Homo sapiens: one gene and its partners. The protein of the gene in region 3 purifies or fractionates together with the protein of the main gene of each other region. This does not show direct contact. Each region holds a gene or a part of one and is shown on either strand. Other genes may lie near its edges.

Evidence for each region.
Region 1: the proteins of CGREF1 (region 3) and IDUA purify together in Homo sapiens (affinity purification with mass spectrometry; one large-scale study listed by BioGRID and IntAct). This does not show direct contact.
Region 2: the proteins of CGREF1 (region 3) and PDIA5 purify together in Homo sapiens (affinity purification with mass spectrometry; one large-scale study listed by BioGRID and IntAct). This does not show direct contact.
Region 4: the proteins of CGREF1 (region 3) and DNASE1L1 purify together in Homo sapiens (co-immunoprecipitation; one large-scale study listed by IntAct). This does not show direct contact.
Region 5: the proteins of CGREF1 (region 3) and GLB1L purify together in Homo sapiens (affinity purification with mass spectrometry; one large-scale study listed by BioGRID and IntAct). This does not show direct contact.
Region 6: the proteins of CGREF1 (region 3) and OLFM2 purify together in Homo sapiens (affinity purification with mass spectrometry; one large-scale study listed by BioGRID and IntAct). This does not show direct contact.
Region 7: the proteins of CGREF1 (region 3) and B3GLCT purify together in Homo sapiens (co-immunoprecipitation; one large-scale study listed by IntAct). This does not show direct contact.

The regions. Positions count from the first base shown.
Region 1 is NC_000004.12:1,000,544-1,004,043, reverse strand, and holds part of IDUA (alpha-L-iduronidase isoform a precursor), read right to left. Parts: intron 3,433-3,500; coding exon 3,347-3,432; intron 3,163-3,346; coding exon 3,055-3,162; intron 2,577-3,054; coding exon 2,481-2,576; intron 2,366-2,480; coding exon 2,163-2,365; intron 2,063-2,162; coding exon 1,883-2,062; intron 1,776-1,882; coding exon 1,559-1,775; intron 1,313-1,558; coding exon 1,100-1,312; intron 1,009-1,099; coding exon 887-1,008; coding exon of another isoform or gene 700-886; coding exon 574-699; intron 496-573; coding exon 419-495; exon of another isoform or gene 415-418; intron 33-414; coding exon 1-32.
Region 2 is NC_000003.12:123,073,525-123,077,024, reverse strand, and holds part of PDIA5 (protein disulfide-isomerase A5 precursor), read right to left. Parts: intron 1-3,500.
Region 3 is NC_000002.12:27,105,629-27,109,128, reverse strand, and holds part of CGREF1 (cell growth regulator with EF hand domain protein 1 isoform a precursor), read left to right. Parts: intron 1-3,500. UniProt on the Homo sapiens protein: Mediates cell-cell adhesion in a calcium-dependent manner. Able to inhibit growth in several cell lines.
Region 4 is NC_000023.11:154,400,736-154,403,495, reverse strand, and holds the end of DNASE1L1 (deoxyribonuclease-1-like 1 precursor), read left to right. Parts: intron 1-114; coding exon 115-227; intron 228-305; coding exon 306-554; intron 555-654; coding exon 655-789; 3' UTR 790-2,260; downstream 2,261-2,760. Other genes in the region: RPL10 (large ribosomal subunit protein uL16), read right to left, coding at 2,473-2,760.
Region 5 is NC_000002.12:219,236,098-219,239,271, forward strand, and holds the end of GLB1L (beta-galactosidase-1-like protein isoform 1 precursor), read right to left. Parts: intron 3,114-3,174; coding exon 2,995-3,113; intron 2,683-2,994; coding exon 2,608-2,682; intron 2,488-2,607; coding exon 2,398-2,487; intron 2,267-2,397; coding exon 2,153-2,266; intron 1,861-2,152; coding exon 1,729-1,860; intron 1,631-1,728; coding exon 1,415-1,630; intron 1,251-1,414; coding exon 975-1,250; 3' UTR 501-974; downstream 1-500. Other genes in the region: tRNA endonuclease ANKZF1, read left to right, coding at 225-348.
Region 6 is NC_000019.10:9,930,016-9,933,515, forward strand, and holds part of OLFM2 (noelin-2 isoform 2 precursor), read right to left. Parts: intron 1-3,500. UniProt on the Homo sapiens protein: Involved in transforming growth factor beta (TGF-beta)-induced smooth muscle differentiation.
Region 7 is NC_000013.11:31,276,475-31,279,974, forward strand, and holds part of B3GLCT (beta-1,3-glucosyltransferase precursor), read left to right. Parts: intron 1-227; coding exon 228-297; intron 298-3,500. UniProt on the Homo sapiens protein: O-glucosyltransferase that transfers glucose toward fucose with a beta-1,3 linkage. Specifically glucosylates O-linked fucosylglycan on TSP type-1 domains of proteins, thereby contributing to elongation of O-fucosylglycan.

The DNA of each region.
Region 1 (3,500 bases), on a different chromosome or scaffold from region 3:
GAGAGAACTGGATCTCGTATGTCCACAGGCACCTGGGGAGGTCAGGCCAAGAACAAGGCTGGGGTCAAGACAGTCCTCAAAGGTGGGAGCAGGCAGGGCACGGCCGCGTGGACCCACAGCCTCATTCCCTCAAGCCCCTCGGCGGCACCTCCCCAGCCCCTGGGCACTCTTCCTGCCCAGGCAGGAGAGGGCTGGAGCCCGAATGTCCATCTCATGTCCCCTAGGAGAACCCACACCCCACTGGCAGGGCCTGGCGCGTGGCCCACAGTGTGTGGGGTGAAGGGCAGGGACGCAGGGCGGCGAGGGAGGGAGCCGATGGGCCACGGCAAGTGGCCCGAGTGACCGCATGGGTGAAGGGGTCGGGACCCAGGGACCTGCCTAGGACCAGGCAGAGGGAGGGGCGGCCCCACTCACGCACTTGGAGCCCACGTGTTCATCCGACCAGACCAGAACCAGCTGCCCTTGGGTCAGGGGCAGGGCGCGGAGCCGCGTGACCTGGGGGAGGGAAGGGCTGTGATGGCGTCGGGGAAGGGGAGTCCGGGCCGCGGCGCGGGTTAGGGGACTGCCACTTGCCTGCCCGGGCGGCTTCTCGGGGCGCGCACACACGTGCACCAGCAAAAGCGACGGCAGCCGCAGCGCGGGGCGCAGGGTCAGGCGGCCGCCGGCGGGTAAGGGGCGGGGCGCCGCGGCCACCGGGTCCTGGGCGCAGTGGCCGGTCCTCAGGGTTCTCCAGGGGAGCTGGGGACGCTCGGCCCGACCTCAGGGCGAACGCCCCCGGCCCACCGCTCCACCTCCCACCCACACCGCCTCGGAGCCCCCGCCCCGGACCCCACCCCCCCGGGACCCCGGCCCGGCCCGGCCCCTCGCCCCTCCGCGGCCCACCTACCTCAGCCGCGCGCATGCGCCGGAACTGCTCTGCCGTGGGGAAGACGGGCCGGCCCAGGCGCCGCCACTCGCCGTCGGGGCTGCAGAGCCCGTTGTCCAGGTAGCGCGTGACGTAGACCAGGCCTGCGGGGCCTGACACTCAGGCCTCGGCTCCCCGGGCCGCCCCCTCCAGAGCCCCAGCGGGGCCAGAGACCTCCCTGGAACCCCGGCTTACCCGGGCCGGGGGGCACCCCGCGCAGCCGCAGGGTCACCGCGACGCTGCGGTTGGGGTGGGCGCGGGTGTCGTCGCTCGCGTAGATCAGCACCGCGGCGCGCCAGGCGTCGGCCGGGCCCTGGGGGCGGTGGGCGCTGGCCAGGACGCCCACCGTGTGGTTGCTGTCCAGGACGGTCCCGGCCTGCGACACTTCGGCCCAGAGCTGCTCCTCATCTGCGGGGCGGGGGGGGGCCGTCGCCGCGTGGGGTCGTTGCCCAGCCGCCCCCCGACCCAGGGCCGGGCCTCCCACCACTCGCTCCCCCTCCCCTTGGTGAAGGAGTCCCCAGGCCCCGCCACGCGGAGGCCGACCCCGGGAAGCGCGCGGCTGGAGGAAGTGCGCTCCCCGCAGCGGGGCCTTCGCAGGAGCCGCTCCCCAGCCTGGAGGGCCCTGGCCGGCCCACCCCAGCGGCCCCGGCTCACCCAGCAGCGCCAGCAGCCCCATGGCCGTGAGCACCGGCTTGCGCAACAGCTGCACGTGCGGCGGGCGGGTGTTGTTGACCTGGAAGCGCGCGGTGAGCGTGCGCTGCGCGAAGGGGTGCGGGTGGTAGCTCAGGAAGGCATTGTCGTTGCTCAGGAGCGCGTAGGGGAAGGCGGAGGTGGTGTTGGCCAGTAGCAGGTTCTGATGCTGCGCGATGACCTGCGGGTGTCCAGGGCAGCTGGGACCGGGTGGCGCGGCCACCGCTCGCCTGTCCCGTCTCGGGAGGAAGGTGGCCGGGGGGCGCGCAGGGCGTTGGGCCGGCCCACCTTCACCACCATGGCCGCGTAGGTCACGTCCGCCCTCCACGGCTGTGGCAGGGACCAGCCCACCAGCGGGTCCGCCTCGTCGTTGTAAATGGGGGTGTCCGCGAACTTGGGGAAGAGCTGCCGGATCTGCTGCGCGACGACCTTCTCCTGCTCCAGGATGGAGATGGAGCTGCGCGCACCCTGCGGGCGGGGCCGCCTCAGCACCACCAGGGTCAGCGCGGCCCGGGGCACAGCGGCTGAGGGCGCAGAACACCGGGGCGGACGGAGGGGCAGGGCGCACCTTCCTGTGGAGGGAGATGTAGTCCAGCCGCACGCCCGCCTCCCCAGTGAAGAAGTTGGTACCGTCGTGGCAGTGGCGCAGGAGGCCCCAGCTCAGCGGGGATCGCGGTGGGGTGTGGAAGGAGTCGCCGGGGCCTCCCAGCCGCAGGGCGGGGCTGGCGGCGCGCAGACCCTCCGAGCAGGCATCGTAGTAGTTCAGGAAGCCTGGGCCGGGGGAGCACTGCGTCTACACCTGCCCTGGGGATGAGCGGCTTAGCCTCTGCTCCTGCCTTCCTCTGCCCCCTTTCAGCCGGGCAGGACCCCAGGAAGCGGTGCACACCTTGCATGGTCATGGAGACGTTGTCAAAGTCGTGGTGGTCTGGCTCATTCCACGTCTCGAAGTTCCACTTGGAAACATGCGCCAGTCCGTACCTACCTGCAGAGGAGCCTTGCTGTCCCCCCAGCACAGGTGAATCTCGCCTCAGTGACTCCCACGGAGGGAGGGTGCAAGGTGATGAAGGGCGTCTGACTCAAGATGAACCCCATCTCCATGCAGGCCAGCCTCCCGCCCCACATCAGGAAGCGCTGGCTCAAGGGGGTCCAAGACCTGGGCGGCGGCCTGGGTGATAGGGGTGCGGCCTGGGTGATAGGGGTGCAGCCTGCCCAGGAGTACCCCCCACCCCAGGGGCCCAGGGCCTTCGCCCACCCACCAAGCCCAGGAGTACCCCCCAGCCTGGGGCCCCAGGGCCTGCGCCGACCACCAACCTATCCCTTGTCACCCCCATCCCCCCACAAGGGCCTGCGCCTGCCCACCAATGTATCTCCTGACCAGGCAGCAGCCTGCGTGATAGGGGTGCAACCTGCCCAGGAGTACCCCCGCCCCGGCCAGGGCCCCAGGGCCTGCGCTCGCCCACCGATGTATCTCCTGGCCAGGCTGGAGACCAAGTCCTTCCACTCAAACACCTGCTGCTTGTCCTCAAAGTCAGTGAAGTGGCCCGAGGCGCTGCCCATCAGCTCAAACCCTGGAACACAGGAGGGCTGCCCCACCGCCCACCACACACCACACCCATGCTCTGCCAGGCCTGTGCTCCGGCACCAAGGCCAGCCCTGAATGGACATCCAAGGACTCAGAGGGGCTGGGTGAGGGAGAGGGTGGGCAGGGCAAGGGGGTGCAGGCGGGCTGGGAGGGCAGAGCCCACAGCTCACCTGGGAGGAGCTGGTTCTCCCTGAGAAGGTCCAGGTACCCGTCCAGGTGGGTGAAGTTGTAGCTCAGGCCCCGTCCAGTGGACCCCCTGCAGAAGGACGGTCAGCGTCAGGAAGCAGGGTGCCCACACAGCTCCATGCTCCAGGCTGGAACCGT
Region 2 (3,500 bases), on a different chromosome or scaffold from region 3:
CATTTGGGGCTACGCAGCACAGTGTCTCCCCTTTTTATTCCCCATGGCACAAATGTTGCTGTCAACAATGGACAATTCAGGGGCAGGGCAACTTATCTGAGAGCTTATGAAAACAGGTTTTCTTATCCTGAAATTGCAACTGCAGTGCATTTAGCCAGGACTTAAGTCCCTAAAGCTTTTAATGTTTTGGAAAACCTCTTCTTGAGCCAAGAGGGGTCTGGATCACCGCCAGCTTGGTGTGCCAGGCCTGTTAACGAGGAAGAACTGGTAGAGGGAACATTGAATTAGGCAGCAGGGAGGGAGGAAGAGCAGGTGAATTCCCACTCCGGAAATCAACTCTGCCTCCAAGCTCCGTTAACTGATAAGAAAATAACAACTCAGTGTTCATGACCCACGGTGTACATCCATGCTTTTACACACATGATCTCATTTCATCCTCTGAAGCTGAGAGTCTAAGCCACTGTTTCCACCCTTCAGGTCTCAACCCAGGAGTCTAGTCATAAAATCAGTGAGTTACAGTAGCATTTTTAAAAAATTACATTGACTAGAAAACATCAGTGAGTAGCACAGGTAGCAACACTATGCATTCAGTGAGCCCAGTGTGTACTGGGTTACACTGTAAAATGTATAACTGTTCTTGCAGGAGTTGAAAAATTGTCATAAACAATGAGTGTTTATAGGCAGAGGTGGTACTATCCCCACTTTAGAGATGTGAAAACTGAGGCTCAGAGAAGGGATTTGCCTCGGATTAAGCCTAAAACAGTAGAGCCAGGTCCCCGCCAGGACAGATCTGATGCTTTTCTCTTGGGCTGTCAATGTGAATAGTTCCCACAGACATCCCTGGAGCATCATCCACTCCCCGTTGCTCCACCCAGAATAATACCCGAGAGGCTGGCAAGTCTGCTGTCCCTTCCAATCCAGCTATTGAGCGTGACCTGCTGAAAAGAGCTACAATGACAACCTGATCCATCTTCCCTCTGCTACCAGCATGTCCACAAACCCCCAAATCCCTTCAGAGAAAAGCACATGCTCAGGCCAAGTGACACCAAGCAGACAATGGTGACACAGCTCCAATGTGAGCAGAACTTGTGCTACACACTCAATTGAGAGCACCCACCTCGGCTGGCAAAATACCACCAGCCATATAAGATTAACTTGGAAATGTGTCTAGTTTTGTAGCTTTACCGCAGAGCTCGGTATTCTGGGAATACAGATTCCTGGGCTTTATTCTTGAAGAAAAACATCTCCAGGGGCTGGGAGCCCAGGAATCCATTTTACACATATCTCCTTAAGGTGAAGAAACTCCATCACTGACCCATCTTTTAAAAACTCTCTCTCTGGACCCCATATCACTCCCCTCTCCACTCACAGCCAGAATTTTCCATCTCCCCTGCTCCTCCCATTCTCCTCCCTCCTTCCATTGCTCATCCCTCTGAAATCTGCCCTCCCCACAACCACCACAAAAAAGGCTCTTGGTGAAGGCTCAACAATGACCTCCTATAGATAAACCCTACAGGCACTTCCAGTTCTCATCTTGTTTGGCCTCTTGAACTGGATGCGACACTTGGTTTCCCTCCTACCTCTCTAGCAATCATTCCTTTCTTCTTTGTAAACCCTCCTCTCCCCATTCTTTCAATGTTGAAGTTCCACAGCTCACTCAGTCTACCCTCTCTTCCTACCCTATATGGTCCCCCAGCCAACTTCACCCACTCTCCTGAACAGCACCCCTAAATTAACATCTCCAGATCAGACCTCTCTTCTAAGCAACACATCTTTACGTCCTGCTCACTCAGCAGTTGAACTGGAGTCAAGTACAGTTCTAAAATGTTAAAAGCCTAATTCTCATACAAATAGGTATTGAGCATATTTCAAAGTTTTACTTAACTCGCTAATAAGAGACCCTAAAAAAGAGGATATAATCCTGATATAAGATTGCTACATTAGATACCAACAGGTTAATGTCCTTCAGGGCAATAATCTTTGTGCTTCTCTTCTTTACCAAACAGAAATAATTTGCATCCTACTTAACTTTACAAAGTATGGCCCATAAAAAATAATAAACAGAGTTACATCCCCTAGAACACAGCTGGTCCTTAGGTGGTTTCTTATACAATACTCCAGTATGATACTAAAATGTCACAAAATCATCTTTTATTTCCAAGTGTTATATAATTTTTTTCCACTGTAGTCTACGAATTTGGATGGAGAAAAATGACATCTTTATCTTCACTAACCTCTAACTGAAATTTAGCCTTTCCTGTATTATGAATGTATTTATAAATGTATAAATGCTTTCTACATTTATGAATGTAGATAACAAATTACAGTAGTAATTAGGGTAGCAGTGTCTGTGACTTTGCCACCAACAGAAATCATATTTTCTTATCACATTACAAGATATCCTGAAACACTATTTATGCTCATCACAACTTAAAATTATAGAAGTTATCAAGCTTGTACCTTTGATCTTTTTATATGATGCATTAATAAACATAAATATTATTTTATCACAACCTTGTTGTTATATTTTGATAACTGTATTTCAATAAAACTGCTTTCTTTGTAATTCTATGCATTTTACTTTATACATTTAAAAACATTATTCTAAGAAAGACCCAGAGGTTCTCAGAGAAGGCTTTCCTGACTCCTTGAATTAGGTTAGGGATCCCTGTTATACATTCTCTTACCACATTATATTAACACTTTCTCTTTCCAGCACTTACTACCTGAATTAAATAATTAATCAGTGGCTGTCCCACTAGGCCATGAGAGAAAGAGATGGTGTCTGTCTTATTTATGGTTATCCCCAATGCCTTAGCATGAGGCCTGGCTCATAAAAGATTCTCAAGGAAATATCCATTTGGGAAAAAAAAGAAGTATCTGTTGAATGAATGAACATCTGTGGCACATGTAGGATGCTGATGTTGGTCCACCTTCCTTTGAAATAGGGGCATGTACTAATACTCTGCCCAGGACCCAGTAAGACTAGACCCTGTGATGAGAACAAACCCACTCGTTCCTCAAGACCCTTCCCTACTTGGCCCAAACAACAGAGCTTTCCTACCAGGCCCACATCTGGGCTCAGATACTGGATCACCTTTATGTTTAAGCCCCAGTTTACAACCCTCAACCTTGATTTTCATCAACATCTTCCAACAAGGATTAAAGGACCTGCTCACGACTTCCAGAAATCTGCCTGCGCCAAGGGGTTGGAGGAACTGTAGGATTCTTTGCAGGGAATGGACACTCCACCCTTGCGCCCCCGCAACTCTAGTGAGCTGGAAACTCTGAAGCCAGACACAGGCCCACCATCACACCATCTAGGAATGGAATGTGCATCAGACTGGGGCCTCAGTATGACTTTGAGGAATAAAGGCTCTTTTAACCCCACACTCCATGAGTGTCTTCAACCCCCCAATGTAAGATCACAAAGCTAATTATTTAGAAGTGGTTGCAAACTGGTATGTGGAAAGAGGCCCTGCTGATGTAGGGTGGCAATA
Region 3 (3,500 bases):
CAAAGTGCTGGGATTACAGGCACGAACTCATATCCAGCTGAATTTCCTTTAATGAAGGAATGTTAGTGGCAAATTCTCTAAGTTATTTGCCTAAAATTGTTTTTACAAGGTAGGAGGATTGCTTGCACCCAAGACCAGCCTGGGCAACAAAGTTGAGACCCTGTCTCTACCAAAAAAAAAAAGCTGGGCATGGTGGCACATTCATGTCGTCCCAGCTACTTGTGAGGCAGGAGTGGGAGAATTGCTATGATCATGCCAGGAGTTCCAGCCTGGGCAACAGAGTGAGACCCTGTCTCTAAATAAATAAATAAATAAATTTGCTTCACCTCATTCTGCAAGATAATTTTGCTGAGAATAGAATTCTAGAATATCAATTTTCTCCCCTCTCTGAACACATTAAAATACTATATTACTGTATTTGGGCATCATTGATGTCAAGAAATCAGCTATCAGTCTAATTACTTTTCCTATGAGATGATTTGTCTTTTCTTTCTGACTGCTTTTACAATTTTTTTTTTCTTGAGTGTTCTATTTTAGAAAAATAGGTCTAGGTGAGAATTTCTGTTTATTTAATCTGCATTGAATTGTTGGGCTTCCTGGATTGGCATATTCCAGTGTTTTGCAACCTACTGGAAAAATGTCAGCTATTATTTCTTCAAATACTGCTTTTTTCCAGTTGTATCTCTTATCTTCTCCATCCACCTTGCCACTTAACCTCTGTTTTATATTTTCTATGTCTTTGACTCAATGAACTGCACTCTGGATAATTTATTCAGATCTATTTTCCAGTTCATTAACTCTCATATCAGTTGTGTCTAATCAATTTAACTCACCCGTTGCATTTTTATTTTTATTTTTTATTTTATTTATTTTTTTAAGACAGTCTCACTCTGTCGCTCAGGCTGGAGCGCAGTGGGGTGATCTTGGCTCACTGCAACCTCCGCCTCCTGGGTTCAAGCGATTCTCCTGCCTCAGCCTCCCGAGTAGCTGGGATTACAGGCGTGTGCCACCAAGCCCAGCTAACTTGTGTATTTTTAGTAGAGACGGGGTTTCACCATGTTGGCCAGGCTGGTCACCCATTGCATTTTTAAAATCAATCTTTTATTTCTAAAAGTTATGTTTGTTTCCTCTTCAAATCTACTTGGTCATTTTTATGCTCTTATTTCTTTCTTTCTTTCTTTTTTTTTTTTTTTTTGAGACAGAGTCTCGCTCTGTGGCCCAGGCTGGAGTGCAGTGGCATGATCTCAGCTCACTGCAACCTCTGCCTCCCAGGTTCAAGTGATTCTTCTGCCTCAGCCTCCCGAGTAGCTGGGATTACAGGTGCCCACCACCACGCCTGGCTAATTTTTTGTATTTTTAGTAGAGACGGGGTTTCACCATGTTGGCCAGGATGGTCTCAATCACCTGACCTCGTGATCCACCAGCCTCAGCCTCCTAAAGTGCGGGGACTACAGGCATGAGCCACCACACCCGGCCTCTTTTTTTTTTTTTTAAAACATACTGTTGCTGGCCGGAAAACTCTTATTTCTTCCTCATAGTTTCAAGCTTCCCTTTAATTTCTTAAAACATGTGAACTGGCCGGGTGCGGTGACTCATGCCTGTAATCCCAGCACTTTGGGAGGCCAAGGTGGGCAGATCATGAGGTCAGGAGTTTGAGACCAGCCTGATCAACATGGTGAAACCCCATCTCTACTAAAAATACAAAAATTAGCAGGGCGTGGTGGCACATGCCTGTAATCCCAGCTACTTAGGAGGGTGAGGCAGGGGAATTGCTGGAACTCGGGAGGCAGAGATTGCAGTGAGCTGAGATTGCACCACGGCACTCCAGCCTGGGCAACAGAGCGAGACCCTCTCTCAAACAAAACAAAACAAAAAAAATGTGAACTGTATCTGCTGTATATTCTGTGTGTAACAATTCCAACACAGCTTTTCCAAGTCTACTTTTCCCTGCTATTGTTTTGCTGGCTCTTACTCAGTGTCTTATTTCTTTGTATGTTTATAACGTTTTGGCTATGAGTTCATATTCCTGGAAACTTTACCTATGGAAATTCTTTGAGGCCTGGATTAGAGTTGCTCCAGAGATGTGTGTTTTCCTCTGCCAGTCATCTGGGGGTGCCATCAACCAGGTTGCACTTCAAAATACATTACCTACTTTAGATGTTCTGACCATACAGGTAGCATTAATAATTCAGGCTTCAAACCCACATTAGAGGGCAGGCGCAGTGGTTCATGCCTGTAATCCCAGCAGTTTGGGAGGCTGAGGCGGGAGGATCACCTGAGATCAGGAGTTCGAGACCAGCTTGGCCAACACAGCGAAACTCTGTCTCTAGTAAAAATACAAAAAATTAGCTGGGCATGGTGGCACATGCCTGTAGTCCCAGATACTCAGGAGGCTGAGGCAGGAGAATCGCTTGAGCCCGGGAGGTGGAGGTTGCAGTGAGCTGATATCATGCCACAGCAACTCCAGCCTGGGCGACAGAGTGAGAGAGACTCCATCCCAGAAAAAACAAAAACAAAAAATCCACATTAGATCAGGCTTGTTATAGAGTCTCAGGGAGAGTTTTTTTTCTCCCTTCTACACAGCACCAAAATCAAGAAAGGCAAAATTCTTTGCTGCCCTTCTTCATGACAAATTTACTTTTTGTTCATGTTCAGAGTGTAGCTGTTTGGAATCCCAGCTTTACGTAGGGAATCTCCTGTTAGTCTCTTCATATCAGGTGGGCCCAGGTATCATCTCTGGTCTCCTTTACAGCACAAGCACACTGACAGGCAGCTCAAGTTCACCTGGGTTTGGTTTGGCAGATACTCCTAAGGCAAAAGCTAATGTCAAGCTCACTTTCCCCCAGATTACTGTTTTCACTGCACATTTGTACTGTTGAGGATTTCTTGCCAACCCAGTGCTTTTGAAAAGATACTTTCTATTTTTATCCAGCTTTGTGGTTACTTTCATTGGGACATTTACTATTACACTCCCAGAAGTGGAAGTCTGAATGTTTTTCTAGTCCATCCTTTTTCTGGGCTGTGACCCTTTGACGGTTTCATGTTGATACAGAGATCTCAGTTCCAATGGCCTACCTTGAACGGGCCCAGGACCTTGTCTTCTCTTCCAGGTGCAACGACTAAAACCCTAGGATTTATGTTGCCAGCTGATGTTGGTGAATACCTTTAGGGCAGCTGTGGCTTCAGCATCTATTTTTGGCTACTGGGGCTTATAGACACCAACAAATTATGTATACTCACTTTATCTGTTGGGCCAGTTGTATGCATAGAAAAATGAAGACGGGCCAAGTGCAGTGCCTCACGCCTGTAATCCCAGCACTTTGGGAGGCCCAGGCGGGCAGATCACCTGAGGTCAGGTGTTCAAGACCAGCCTGACCAACATGGTGAAACCCCGTCTCTACTAAAAATACAAAAATTAGCCAGGTGTGGCGGCAGTTGCCTGTAATCCCAGCTACTCGGGAGGCTGAGGCAGGAGAATCACTTGAACCAGGGAGGTGGAG
Region 4 (2,760 bases), on a different chromosome or scaffold from region 3:
TGTGGGAGCAGAAGGGGAGTTCTGGCTGGCTCCACTGGGGGCTTCCTCACCCAGACGGGCTAGGGGGAGAAGGTCCAGGAGTGGATGGCAGCCCTCGGTCCCTGGGCCTTGCAGTCCTTCCCAGCCTGGTGTTGGTCCCGCTGCACACCACTCCTAAGGCCGTAGAGAAGGAGCTGAACGCCCTCTACGATGTGTTTCTGGAGGTCTCCCAGCACTGGCAGAGCAAGGTAGGCCTGGGCAGTTTGTACAGGAGGGACAAGGATAGGGTGGCCCAGCGGCCAGCCTGATGGCTGCTGTGTCTCTAGGACGTGATCCTGCTTGGGGACTTCAATGCTGACTGCGCTTCACTGACCAAAAAGCGCCTGGACAAGCTGGAGCTGCGGACTGAGCCAGGCTTCCACTGGGTGATTGCCGATGGGGAGGACACCACAGTGCGGGCCAGCACCCACTGCACCTATGACCGCGTCGTGCTGCACGGGGAGCGCTGCCGGAGTCTGCTGCACACTGCGGCTGCCTTTGACTTCCCCACGAGCTTCCAGCTCACCGAGGAGGAGGTGAAGGGATGGGGCTGGCATGAGGAGGGAGGGCAGCAGCAGGGTCACAGGGAAGCCCCTCGGCCCCGGGCACTGACACTGCCCCACCACCCATTCCCAGGCCCTCAACATCAGTGACCACTACCCCGTGGAGGTGGAGCTGAAGCTGAGCCAGGCGCACAGCGTCCAGCCTCTCAGCCTCACTGTTCTGTTGCTGCTATCACTCCTGTCCCCTCAGCTGTGCCCTGCTGCCTGAGCGTCCCCCTACCCCCCCAGGGCCTGCTGCCTTTTGGGACTTAAACCCCAGCCTCCCCCGTCCATCCAGCCCTGGGGCTGGGGGGCTTCAACTATAGTTGCCCTGTGACTGTAGTCCACCCCTGCCTGCCTTGTTTGATTTGGCTCTTGTTCTTTGGTTGGGCTTGTGCCTAGATTAGGAGAGGAAGCCAGGGGCCCTGCACTCATGCCACCTGCCAGGTAGTGTAGTATCAGGAGTGGAGACAAAGTGGGCTCTGGGTTGGGGTAGGGGAAGGGAGGGTTCAGAAAGAGGAATGAAGATGTTGTATGACAAGAAGGAAAGTTACTGAGAACAAAAACCCAGATTGGTGAGATAGGACACTTGTGCAGCAGATATGCCAATGGGCCATGTTTATTGTGGATTGGTAAGAATCACCAGGAAACCATTAAGCCCCAATAGCTACAAGGAGGGTGGTTAATCTGCTATATCAAACTCCTTCCCTGAAACCAGCAAACACCGGGAAACATTTTGGCTCATTATAATCCGGTGAACAATGCAGTCAGGCCTGTTATAACCGCTGAGCAGCCACACTCGCACCTCCTGGGTGCTGTAGTCTGTGTTGGTACAGGCTTCTGCATGCCTGGTAAAGTCCAGCCAAGGCTGGTCAAGGCAACATCTCCACACAGAAAATCTGCACCAGTTATGTAAGCTAAAAAGCTGTGTGAACCCAGGTGTCCCGGAAAGGGGCTGCAGGACACAGCAAAATGCCAGCAGCATGCCGGACCCCTCCCTTCCATCCTCCTCTCCAAAGAAGAGAGGTCAGGAAAAACACTGGCTGGGACGCTAGAAGGGTCATGTGTTAACTATAATCACATTTATGGTTTGGAACCATCACCCCAAGGTAAAAAAAAAATAAAAGGTATTCCCAGGTATGTTTGGCAAAATAAAATAAAGGTAATTAAAAACCTAAGAAATGGCTGTAAACTGAGATTACAAAAAACCAGAGGCCTTTTGGGAGCCACAGGCTGGGGGCTGGGGCCAACATACCCCAGCTCTGGGACCAAAAGCCTTTGGAGTCCTGTCCCTGGATACAGATGCTCAGGCCACCCACCTAGCACTCCTCTCATTTTTGCTGCTCCCCCAAAAGCCAGCGCTGTTCTACAATAGTTCAGGTCAGACATCTAAGATCCCCAGGCCAAACCATGCCACACACGTGTCTGTTCCGAGGTCTTGTTACAAATGACCAAAGGTTAGCCTAGACCTTTGGTCAGGTGGTGAAGGCCCTGGGAATGCAGGTTCTAGAAGGGGTGGGGGCATGGGGCCCAGGAGGTTGCTAGAGATAGGAAATGGGGCAAATCGCAGGTGACCTCAGCAGTACCTGGATGATTCCCACCAAGGAGGAATGGCCAAACCAGATGGGTGAGAACAAGCCCAATGTGATGCACACCTACCCTTGCTAAATAAACGCTGCTGGTCAGCCTCTAGCCCACAAGCCCCTCTTGGTCCGCATGTGTTGTAATAAGCAACACAACTGTAGGCTGACCCCAGCCTGGGATTGCAAGGCTTTGCTGCAGCTGTGCTTCATGAAAAGCACTTCAGTGTTTTTCAACCTACTGCCTAGGACCTGGGGAGGTCCAAGTCAAGCTCCAGAGTAGACAACTGACATAAGGCCACCAGTCCCAGCCCTTTGCAGGGTTTGCTGCCTCATGAGCAGGGCTGAGTTGTCAACCTGTTTCTGAAGTGAAAGGGCAATGACCCAAAGGTTCCCAGAGGAAGTTCCTTCCCCGTCAAGAATGTAGATACAAAGACATAGGTGGACAGGAAGTAGAATTTATTGGTGAGTATTAAGAGGGGGGCAGCACATTGGAAGCCCTCATGAGTGCAGGGCCCGCCACTTGTCCAGAGGGCCACGACTGGGGATGTACTTGACCCCACAGCCATCTGGGATGAGCCGCTTTTCAGCCACCATGTCTTCAAATTCATCAGCATTGA
Region 5 (3,174 bases), about 190 Mb from region 3:
ATGGGGTGCGGGATGAGGGAGTGGGTGGACTGTAATGTTGCAGGGACCATTGGGGGCAAGAGAAATGAGTACCTGCACAGTATTCAGAAGGGTGGTTGAGGGAATTTGGGATGTTCTGGCAGATGCTGCAGTGAAAACAGAAATGGCAGGAGGAGGGACGGGGAGAGCGTGGATTGGAAAGTTTCTGGGGTACCTGTCCAGCCATTTTTCTTCCTCTTGTTCAGACGCTGCTGGAGTTGTGGGGCATCCCTCCAAGGCCTGACTCCCTTTCACTACCTCGACTTCTCTTTCTGCTCCACACGTTGCCTCCAGGATCATCGCCGTCAGGCAGGGAGGCCCTCTTCCTGATCTCTTACAGCTCTACCTGGGGCCAACTCAGGGACCTGAGAGGGCACATTCACAGCAGCCCTAGGTTTTTTCTTCCCCGTGAAACCAGAGATGATTTGGAAGATGGGGGTGAAGGACACTCGGGAACTAGGGCAAAGACAGGGCTAGAGGTATGTGGAGCTGGTACTGTCTCTGGAATTTTAATCACAATAAAGTTTGGCAAGGAATGTGTACTTGTACTTACATTCAGAGGCACTGTGGCCTTTAGTTCCTTAGGGTCACCGTGGCCAGCACCAAGGGATCCTGCCCACTCCATGTCCCAGGTCCAAGGGTTACTTTTTTTTTTTTTTTTTTTTTTGAGATGGAGTGTCTCACTGTCAGCCAGGCTGGAGTGCAGTGGTACAACCTCCACTCACTGCAACCTCTGCCTCCTGGATTCAAGCAATTCTCCTGCCCTCAGCCTCCCAAGTAGCTGGGATTAGAGGTGCCCACCATCACGCCCGGCTAATTTTTGTATTTTTAGTGGAGACGGGGTTTCACCATGTTGGCCAGGCTGGTCTTGAAGTCCTGACCTCAGGTAATCCACCCGTCTCAGCCTCCCAAAGTGCTGGGATTACAGGCATGAGCCACCATGCCCGGCCTACCTTTCAGTGCCCACTTAACTCCATTGGTTCAGAGGCACTCAGTGTATCAGCTGAAAGGGAATTGATATGTGTCCTGTGCAAAGTACTAGTGCTATTGAGGATAGGCTTATCCAAAAATTGGACTTGGGGCTGGAGAGGTACATCTTCTAGTTCCAGCAATGTAATTTTGTTGAGGGCTCCCCTAGGAAACAGCAGGAATCTTGGCACGTAGAGGGTCTGTTGTGGCCCCTGCTTTGTCCAGTACCGGCCCAAGTTAAACCCATTGATCCAGACTTGGCCCTGGGGAATAGGGAGCAGGAAAGAGGGGAAAAGAAAGGGTCAGCTCTCCAGGGGTAGAATCATACCCTTTTGGGTTTCTAATCAGAGGATACTTTCTGCTCCCCTCCTTCTGTGATTTTTCTCTTTTACCTCCCCGCTACCCAAACCACCACCATTACCAATACCTTGGTCCATCCAGGTAGATATAGAAATGTGTCCCCAACTGAGCCTAAAATTGGAAATGTTTTGGAGTAGAATGTGGGGCCAGAAGGAGCTTGAGGATATGGCCATTTTGGCAACTGGAGGGGAAACCACCACTTCACAAGGTTATCAATTTTCAGAGGGAACATCATCCACTGGGTAAGGATTGTTTGCCCCAGAATTGGTGGCTTCAACAGGCCCTATAGGGAAGGAAAATGAAAAGTCATCATTCACTAAGCTTTGAAGCTAAGTTATCCTTAATCAAGCCCTGGGATATAACTAGGCAAAGCTAGCTCACCTTGAAGTCACTGCTGTTAGACCCAAAGCTGAGCCTCCCCATGTTCTCCACCAAGATATCCAGTTTGGACCCCAGTTTCCCCGTCAAAAATAGTTTGTCTCTCATATTTCGCTCCACAACACCCTGGAACACCTGTGGATAGGAGATAGGATAGGAGCAAGGCTCAGCATCTAGCTCTTAGCCACTGCATAGGAAACCACACATTAGGATACTTATTTGGAGGGCAGAGAGAATGTAGCCATCTATCACCCATCTATTCTAGAATTCTATCCTTAATCAAACTCTTCCTCATCCCAGCTTATCCCTGGAACCCTCTGCAAACGTGAACAGGCAGGTGGGAAAGTGTAAATATGGGGAACTTAAGGCTAACGCTTCCTGGGGAAGGGAGGAGTTTGGGGCTCACAGCCTGGAATTAGGTTCTCACCCCATCCACCATCACATAGGCACGGTCATGGACTCCATTATTTGGCACCCAGAATGGTGTTGGCTCAAAAATGGTATGGGTCATATAGGTTCGGTACAACATGAAGCCATGGTCCTGGGTATGGAAGAATGAGTACTTCAGACAAACAGAAATAAAAGAGGACACTGTGACTATAGCCAAGGAACTTTTGCGTATAGCTGTTAAGGGAGGTTGTCATCTCCACCAGATGTGGGTTTATGCCTTACCTGCTTGACAGCCTCAAAGGTCATTGGCAAGATTGAATGAATGGGCCCACGGGGGCAAAGCAAGTCTAGGAAAGCCAGTAAATGCCCAACCTATTAGAATAAGGGAGAAGAATTAGAATATCAGGGAAGTTTCTGGATAGAGGACAAGAAAGAATAGGCTATTTAGAAAAAAAAGGTGTGGTATAAGAGAAAAGATGTGGAGGAACTTACCAGGTGCAGAGTCACAGGTCCAAGCATCATCTTGGGGCTCGGGGGAGGTAAAGGTCCCAAAGGAACTTCCTGGAACTGAGCCCAGATTCTCTCAGGATCCATAGGAAAACCACAGAAAACAATACCTATTCCAAGACTCTAGGGCAGAGTTCCTAACCTGGGGCCCAGGGAAGGGCTTCAGGGATCATGGAGGCTCAATAATTTTGCACACCTGTGTGTCTTCACACATAGTCCCATTTGGTTGAATGGGAAATGCCTCAGTGGGATGCTCAGAAGGCTCTGTGGCCCAGACAATAACCACCAATTTATGGGATACCTTTACAATGTGGGCACTCCCTTCCTCCAAATTAATAAAAGCCTTTGGAGCTTAATGAAATGGTAGGGTACCTTGCTGATGACATCTCGAAGAGCAAAAAGCTTAGGTGTGGGGTCCCCTGCTTCAGATATAGGTGCATCATAGTCATAGCTGGTAGTAATCGGAAGGAAGCGTCCCTTCTTATCGGCACCTGAAGTTGAGCCAATTTAATTAATTCAACATGTATTTCAGATGACAGGCACTACTAAGCA
Region 6 (3,500 bases), on a different chromosome or scaffold from region 3:
GCAACAAGAGCGAAACTCCATCTCAAAAAAAAAAAGAAAGAAAGAAAGAAATCCACACATACCATATGGTTGGCCTACATGGATACAGTCACTGGTGTGATGATGATACAAGCATGTCCCTGTGCTCATGGTCCCTGAACATGCACACAGTCACCAAACATACACATACACGCATGACACCACAGACACATGCCTATGGGGCCAAAGTTAGAGTGAGGCAAGTTATGCAAGTGCAGAGGGGGAGCCCATATTTATTTAAAAATTTGTTTTTATTCATTATAGATTTTTCTTGCATCAATTTAGATTTTTCTTAAAATGTTCCATTAAAATATTATTTATCTTGGTTACTGGTTTTTATTTTTTTGGGGGGCATACCCTTAAATTTTGTACTATAGCTGAACTCTGTACCATGTACCTGTCACCCTAGCTACTCAGGAGGCTGAGGCAGAAGAATCACTTGAGCCCAGGAGTTGGAGGCTTCAGTGAGCTATGACTGCACCACTGCACTCCAGCATGGGTGACAGAACAAGACCCCGTCTTAGAAATAGGCCCGGCACCGTGGCTCACGCCTGTAATCCCAGCACTTTGGGAGGCCAAGGCGGGCAGATCATCTGAGGTCTGGAGTTCGAGACCAGAGTGGGCAACGTGGTGAAACCCTGTCTCTATTAAAAATACAAAAAAAAAAAAATTTAGCCGGCTGTGGTGCTGTGCGCCTATAATCCCAGCTACTCGAGAGGCTGAGCAGGAGAATCGCTTGAACCCGGGAGGCAGAGATTGCAGTGAGCCGAAATCGCACCACTGCACTCCAGTGTGGACGACACAGCAAGACTCTGTTTCAAATATCATCATCATCATCATCATCAACTTTTTAAAATGTTTGCACCCGCGGCGAGTATCTCACCTGTTTTACCCTGACCTGGGCACCCCCATCCCACATACGCACGCGCCCACGCACAGGTGCACAACCACACACATTCACCCACCAGTCACACAGACGCACACAGTCCCTGCACAAACCTCACTCGACCACTAGATGTCGCTCAAGCTCCATAATCTTAAATCCAGCCCCAAGGGGCTCTTTCCTACACTAACTCGGAGTCTTTAAATTTCCTTTTACTTCCCTCCACTGGGACATTTACATGCTCTAAAGGAGCCCCAGGAGAACATCGTCTTACCCCTAAACAACAGTGCCCTATCGGTGGAATGTCAGGCACAGGTAAAGAAGATGGGTTTTCTTTCTTTCTTTTTTGTGGAGACAGGGTCTCAGTCTGTCGCCCAAGCTGGAGTGCAGTAGTGCAATGATAGCTCACTGCAGCCTCAAACTCCTGGGCTCAAGTGATCTTCACACCTCAGCCTCCTGAGTAGAACTACAAGCCTGGCCAATTTTTTTTAAAGTTACTGCAGAGGCCGGGCACGGTGGCTCACGCCTGTAATCCCAGCAGTTTAGGAGGCCGAGGCAGACAAATCAAGATGTCAGGAGTTCGAGACCAGCCTGGCCAAAATGGTGAAACCCCATCTCTACTAAAAATACAAAAATTAGCTGGGTGTGGTGGCACGCCCCTGTAGTCCCAGCTACTCGGGAGGCTGAGGCACTAGAATCTCTTGAGCCCGGGAGGCAGAGGTTGCAGTGAGCTGAGATCATCACAATACTGTACTGTACTCCAGCATGGGTGACAGAACAAGACTCCATCTCAAAAATAAAAAAAAAAAAAGAAATAAAAAGAAAAAGTTATTGTAGAGATGGGATCTTGCTGTATTGCCCAGGCTGGTCTCAAATTCCTGGCCTCAAGAGACCCTCTGGCTTTGGTCTCCCAAAATGCTGGGATCATAGGTATCAGCCATCACACCTGGCCTGAAGAATGGATTTTCTTGGTGCCTTCCATCCAGGAGCGAGTGTTCCCCTGACACTCTCTTGATAAAAGAATCCTGTGGTTTGAGAAAGAAAGACACTCTGTGTGTGTGAGGGGGTCCATCCATCCATCCATTCATCCATTCAGCAGATATTTCTTGAGCACCTACTGTGTGTCAGGCTCTGCTCTAGACACTGGAGAAACAACAAAGCTAGCTGAACCCTGATAAACTGCCGCTCTAGTGGGGAAACAGAGAATGAATGAATAGAAGAATCATAGAAATGTGGAAACGAGGGCTATAAAGAAAAATATGGCCGGGCGTGGTGGCTCATGCCTATAATCCCAGCACTTTGGGCGGCAGATCACCTGAGGTCAGGAGTTCAAGACCAGCCTGGCCAACATGGTGAAACCCTGTCTCTACTAAAAATACAACAAAAACTAGCTGGGCATCAGGTGGCACGTGCCTGTAGTCCCAGCTACTCGGGAGGCTGAGGCACGAGAATCACTTGAACCGGTGAGGCAAAGCTTGCAGTGAGCCGAGATTGCGCCACTGCACTCCAGCCCAGGCAACAGAGTGAGACTCAGTCTCAAAAAAAAAAAAAAAAAGAAAGAAAGAGAGAGAAAGAAAAAGAACACGGAGTAAGCACTCAGAGAGTGGCAGCAGGGGGCTATTTCACTTAGCTGTTCAGGGTGAGCCTCTTGGAGGAGGTGACATTTAAGCAGAAATCAGAGATAAATAGCTACCAGGGGGAACAGTGTCACAGGCAGAGGGAACAGCAAGTGTGAAGTCCCTGAGGCACGTGATCTAAACTGAATTATTCCTTCTCCCCATCCTCTGAAAGCCCCAGGAAAGAGTTGGTCCCAAACCCAGATAGTGCCAACGATGTAGCTAGATCTTAGGGAGGCCTTCGCAGGGATCAGGAAGGCATCTTTTCCACAAGGAAAATAGTGGGGCTCAGAACTGTCAAGCTCTCTGGTAGTCACTCCCAGGCCAGAACCCAGAACATCTTGGATAGATCCTGGATGAATGGACAATGCCTCTGACAGGCCCTGCTTTCCTGTTCTCCTGCTCTCTGGGTCAAATCCAAACTTCTGCCCACAGCTTACAAGTTCCTAAGTGGTCTGGCTTCCCCGGCCTCATCTCCCCGCGACCTCTCCAGCCACACCAGCGTCCACACTGCTTCTGAAACTCACCAAGCTTGTTCTTACCCCAGGGCCTTTGCACCTTCTGTTCCTCCCACCTTCAATGCTCTTCCCCCAGACACCCACAAGGCTCCCTCTCTCACCTCCTTCAGATGTCACCTGAAACACTACTTCCTTAGAGACACCTTCCCTGACCACACTGGCTCAAATAGCCCCCACCTTGTAATCTTTTTCTGTTTTTTTGCTTTGAGACAGTCTTGTTCTGTTGCCTAGGCTGGAGTGCAGTGGCATGACCTTGGCTCACTGGAACCTCTGCCTCCCAGGTTCAAGCAATTCGCCTGCCTCAGCCTCCTGAATAGCTGGGACTACAGGTGTGCAACACCACACCTGGCTAATTTTTTGCATTTTTAGTAGAGACGGGGTTTCACCATGTTGGCCGGGCTGGTCTCAAACTCCTGACCTCAAGTGATCCACTCACCCTGGCCTCCCAAAGTGCTGGGATTACAG
Region 7 (3,500 bases), on a different chromosome or scaffold from region 3:
TGCACAGTCCGTGCACAGTGTAGCAGGCAGGTCCAGGGCTGGCTGACAGAAAGGCTATGTTGTCAGCTGACCTATGTTTCCATTTCTCCCCTAAAACTTTATGCCGGAAATATGTTTGGTATCCTTGACATTGGTTAATTTGAACTCTAGAGCGTGTGAGATCTAGTGTGGGTGTGAAGTTAACGCTGACTCACATATGCATACATTTTTTCTTTTCTTTTTTTTAGAGAAAGCCAGTGAAGAAGAAGGATATTTTTGTTGCAGTAAAAACATGCAAGAAATTTCATGGTGACAGAAGTATGTTTTGGGTTATTCATTTTATTGAACGCTAAAATCCAGACTACCTTCTAAAGAAAAGTACCAATGAATTCTTGAGTGTAAATTCAGAAAAGGGATAATGACAATTCGGATGTTGAAGTGAAAGCAGTTATTTAATCAATACTCCTCATTGCACCATTTCAATCACCAAGATCAATTAGGAAAGAAAATTTTGTATTGAAACGTGAGTGGTCATAGCCGATACTGCTTATGGCAGTATTTTAAATTGGAAATGGAAAAGCTCAGTGTGGCAGTCTTGGAGACTGTGTGAAAAACAGTCCATTTTGTCAAACAATGTATTAGGTCTGTGCGCAGTCTCTAAACGGGATGAAGAATGTCAGGGGATTTCAAGGTAACAGCATGCCAACAAAGAAAAAAGACTTTTTCTTCTTTTTCAATTTATTTCAAATGCTTACCTTGGAACTTGTTAGTTAAGAGATGTATTTGCTCATGAGTAGATAATATTGGAGAAGAAGAAAAAGCCGCGGTACAAACAGTGAATCTCTTCTTAAGGAAATCCTGGCATGCAGATTAATGTTGTTTTTATTCAGGTTTTTGATGTCATTACAGAATTCTGCTAAGTTGTGACGATAATGTAAAAAAAAAAAGCCCATCCTAAATATAAATAGACATAATTTCTCTCTTTTTGCACCTTATTTCAAGCAACACTTTTCTGAAATTGAAAATTAGGCAGTCTTTTGCATTTTCTAATTTTAGTGCGTATTTTAATTTTTTTCCCCATGAAAAGACTGTCAATTTCACCAAGGATGTGGTATTTATGTAGGAGAGATTTCTAAACCAACTGTCATTTTCATGGGATTGGAACTACTGAAGAAGTTCATTTATATATTTTATGTGATAATATGATACATACAAATTATATTTTACAGGGGAAGATGTTTTCCAAATAAAATAATATTATAATTTGAGATTATAGTATTGTCTAAGACATCAACATCAATTAAAATCCAGCTATAATCAATTATATCTTAAAAATACATTAACTATAAACCTTCATATTTGCCTAAAATGGCCACACTAAATTCCAAATCCTATTAAATCAGTCTATATGAATACATTTGTTATGCAACAAGTCCTAAGATACTGTGAAGAATCAGTATAGCAGTTAAAATAAAATTTTTATTTATCATAAATTTAACCTAAATTTAATATCCTTTTACTTTTTTCATAATATGGAAGGGTTTTGTGGGATTATTTTGACAAATACCTTCTTTAAATAGGTGTTGGGGAAATGAACTATACCGCTTTTTGTTTTGTTTCTTTTACAGCAAGCAGGAACTGTTTGAATTGATTTAATTGATCTTGAAGCTACACTTGGAGTAGTGATTGTTTTCACAATATTAATGTTAAGGATGGTGTTGCTGGTACTTTTTCTTTGAAACACATTTTTCAGGTCACAGTGAAGCAGTAAAATTAGGGACACTCCCTGTTGTATTTTTTATATTCTACAGAAATGAAAAAAAAAATAGTTTGTTAATTTTGATTTAGTAATTTTGAATAATCTAGTTTACTGCTTTCTTATTTTGCATAAGTTTGAGATACTCTTTTTAGATATTCATGAAATCCTTTTCTGTTTGAATTTTGAGTCAAAAGTCTTTAAAAATTACAAAATCTTAAAAGCCTATTAGGAGCATTAGAAACAAACCTTCCAAAGCCAGATGCATTGATTTACTGCTGTTAATTTGAATCTGGGATCATTAAAGCATGAGGCCTAAAATGTATCATGAAGTTTTCATATTTGGGTTTCTGTGGTAAGCCGTTTTTCAACTTGGATATGTTTGTTTGAAAAGATAGTCTAAGGCAACAGGATTTCAGTGACTTTGAAGTCCATTTTGCATGACTTCATGTAGCCTGCCAAGCCACCACTGGGCTCTGCCCCTCATTTTAGAAGCCTAGTCCAGCCATCAGTTGGCCCAAAGAGTTATCCAGTAATACCAGTTACAAGGATAACATCACACTAACTGCTTCTAACTGCTAATATTTCTTACATTTTCTGGTGTGTTTTTCACATATGTTCTATTACCTAGTTTCATGTTGACACTTCCTCGTGATATGATAATTATTGTTATTCACTTGTTGTGGAAAAAGCTGAGTATGGAATGATACACAACTGGCTCAGTTTCTTGTATCCTATTGAGTAGCAGAGCCAAAGACTTGGGTTTTCTGGCTCCTAAGTCCCACATTTTTTTCTACCACAGCACAGCTATACTGTAATCTCCTTGGATGTATTACAAACTCCATACTTGATAAATAGTCTTTGCTATTCATGTTGATGTCCTGCTATGCTCAAGGTCAGTTTTGACTTGGCCAGAAGCTGTGAAAGTAGGCTTTCCATTTTTAGTAGCAATGGGGATGGCAAGGAATTGAAACCCACACAGGATCTAAAATACAAATCGAGCTGAGAATTTAGACTGCCACTCCTATCTAAGCATATCACTGCTATAGTCAAGCAGAATACATGGTCTGGGGTGTTGGATTTTTTTTTCATTTTCTTTTCCCTGTGCACTCTATTAGTGGGGGAAACCAGCCCCCAATATTCAACGTGAGTCCTTTTCTATTTTCCCTAAGTGTTGGCCAGTCTGAGAAATAAAGGGAAGGAGTACAAAAGAGAGAAATTTTAAAGCTGGGTGTCCGGGGGAGACATCACATGTTGGCAGGTTCTGTGATGCCCCCTGAGCCGTAAAACCAGCAAGTTTTTATTAGTGATTTTCAAAAGGGGAGGGAGTGTACGAATAGGGTGTGGGTCACAGAGATCACTTGCTTCACAAGGTAATAAAATAGCACAAGGCAAATGGAGGCAGGGCGAGATCACAGGACCAGGGCGAAATTAAAATTGCTAATGAAGTTTCAGGCACACATTGTCATTGATAATATCTTATCAGGGGACAGGGTTTGAGAGCAGACAACCAGTCTGACCAAAATTTATTACGCAGGAATTTCCTCATACTAATAAACCTGGGAGCGCTACGGGAGACTGGGGCTTATTTCATCCCTTATCAACGACCATAAAAGACAGACATTTCCAAAGCGGCCATTTCAGAGACCGTCCCTTGGGAACGCATTCTCTTTCTCAGGGATGTTCCTTGCTAAGAAAAAGAATTCAGCAATATTTCTCCTATTTGCTTTTGAGAGAAGTGAAATATGGCTCTGTTCTGCCCAGC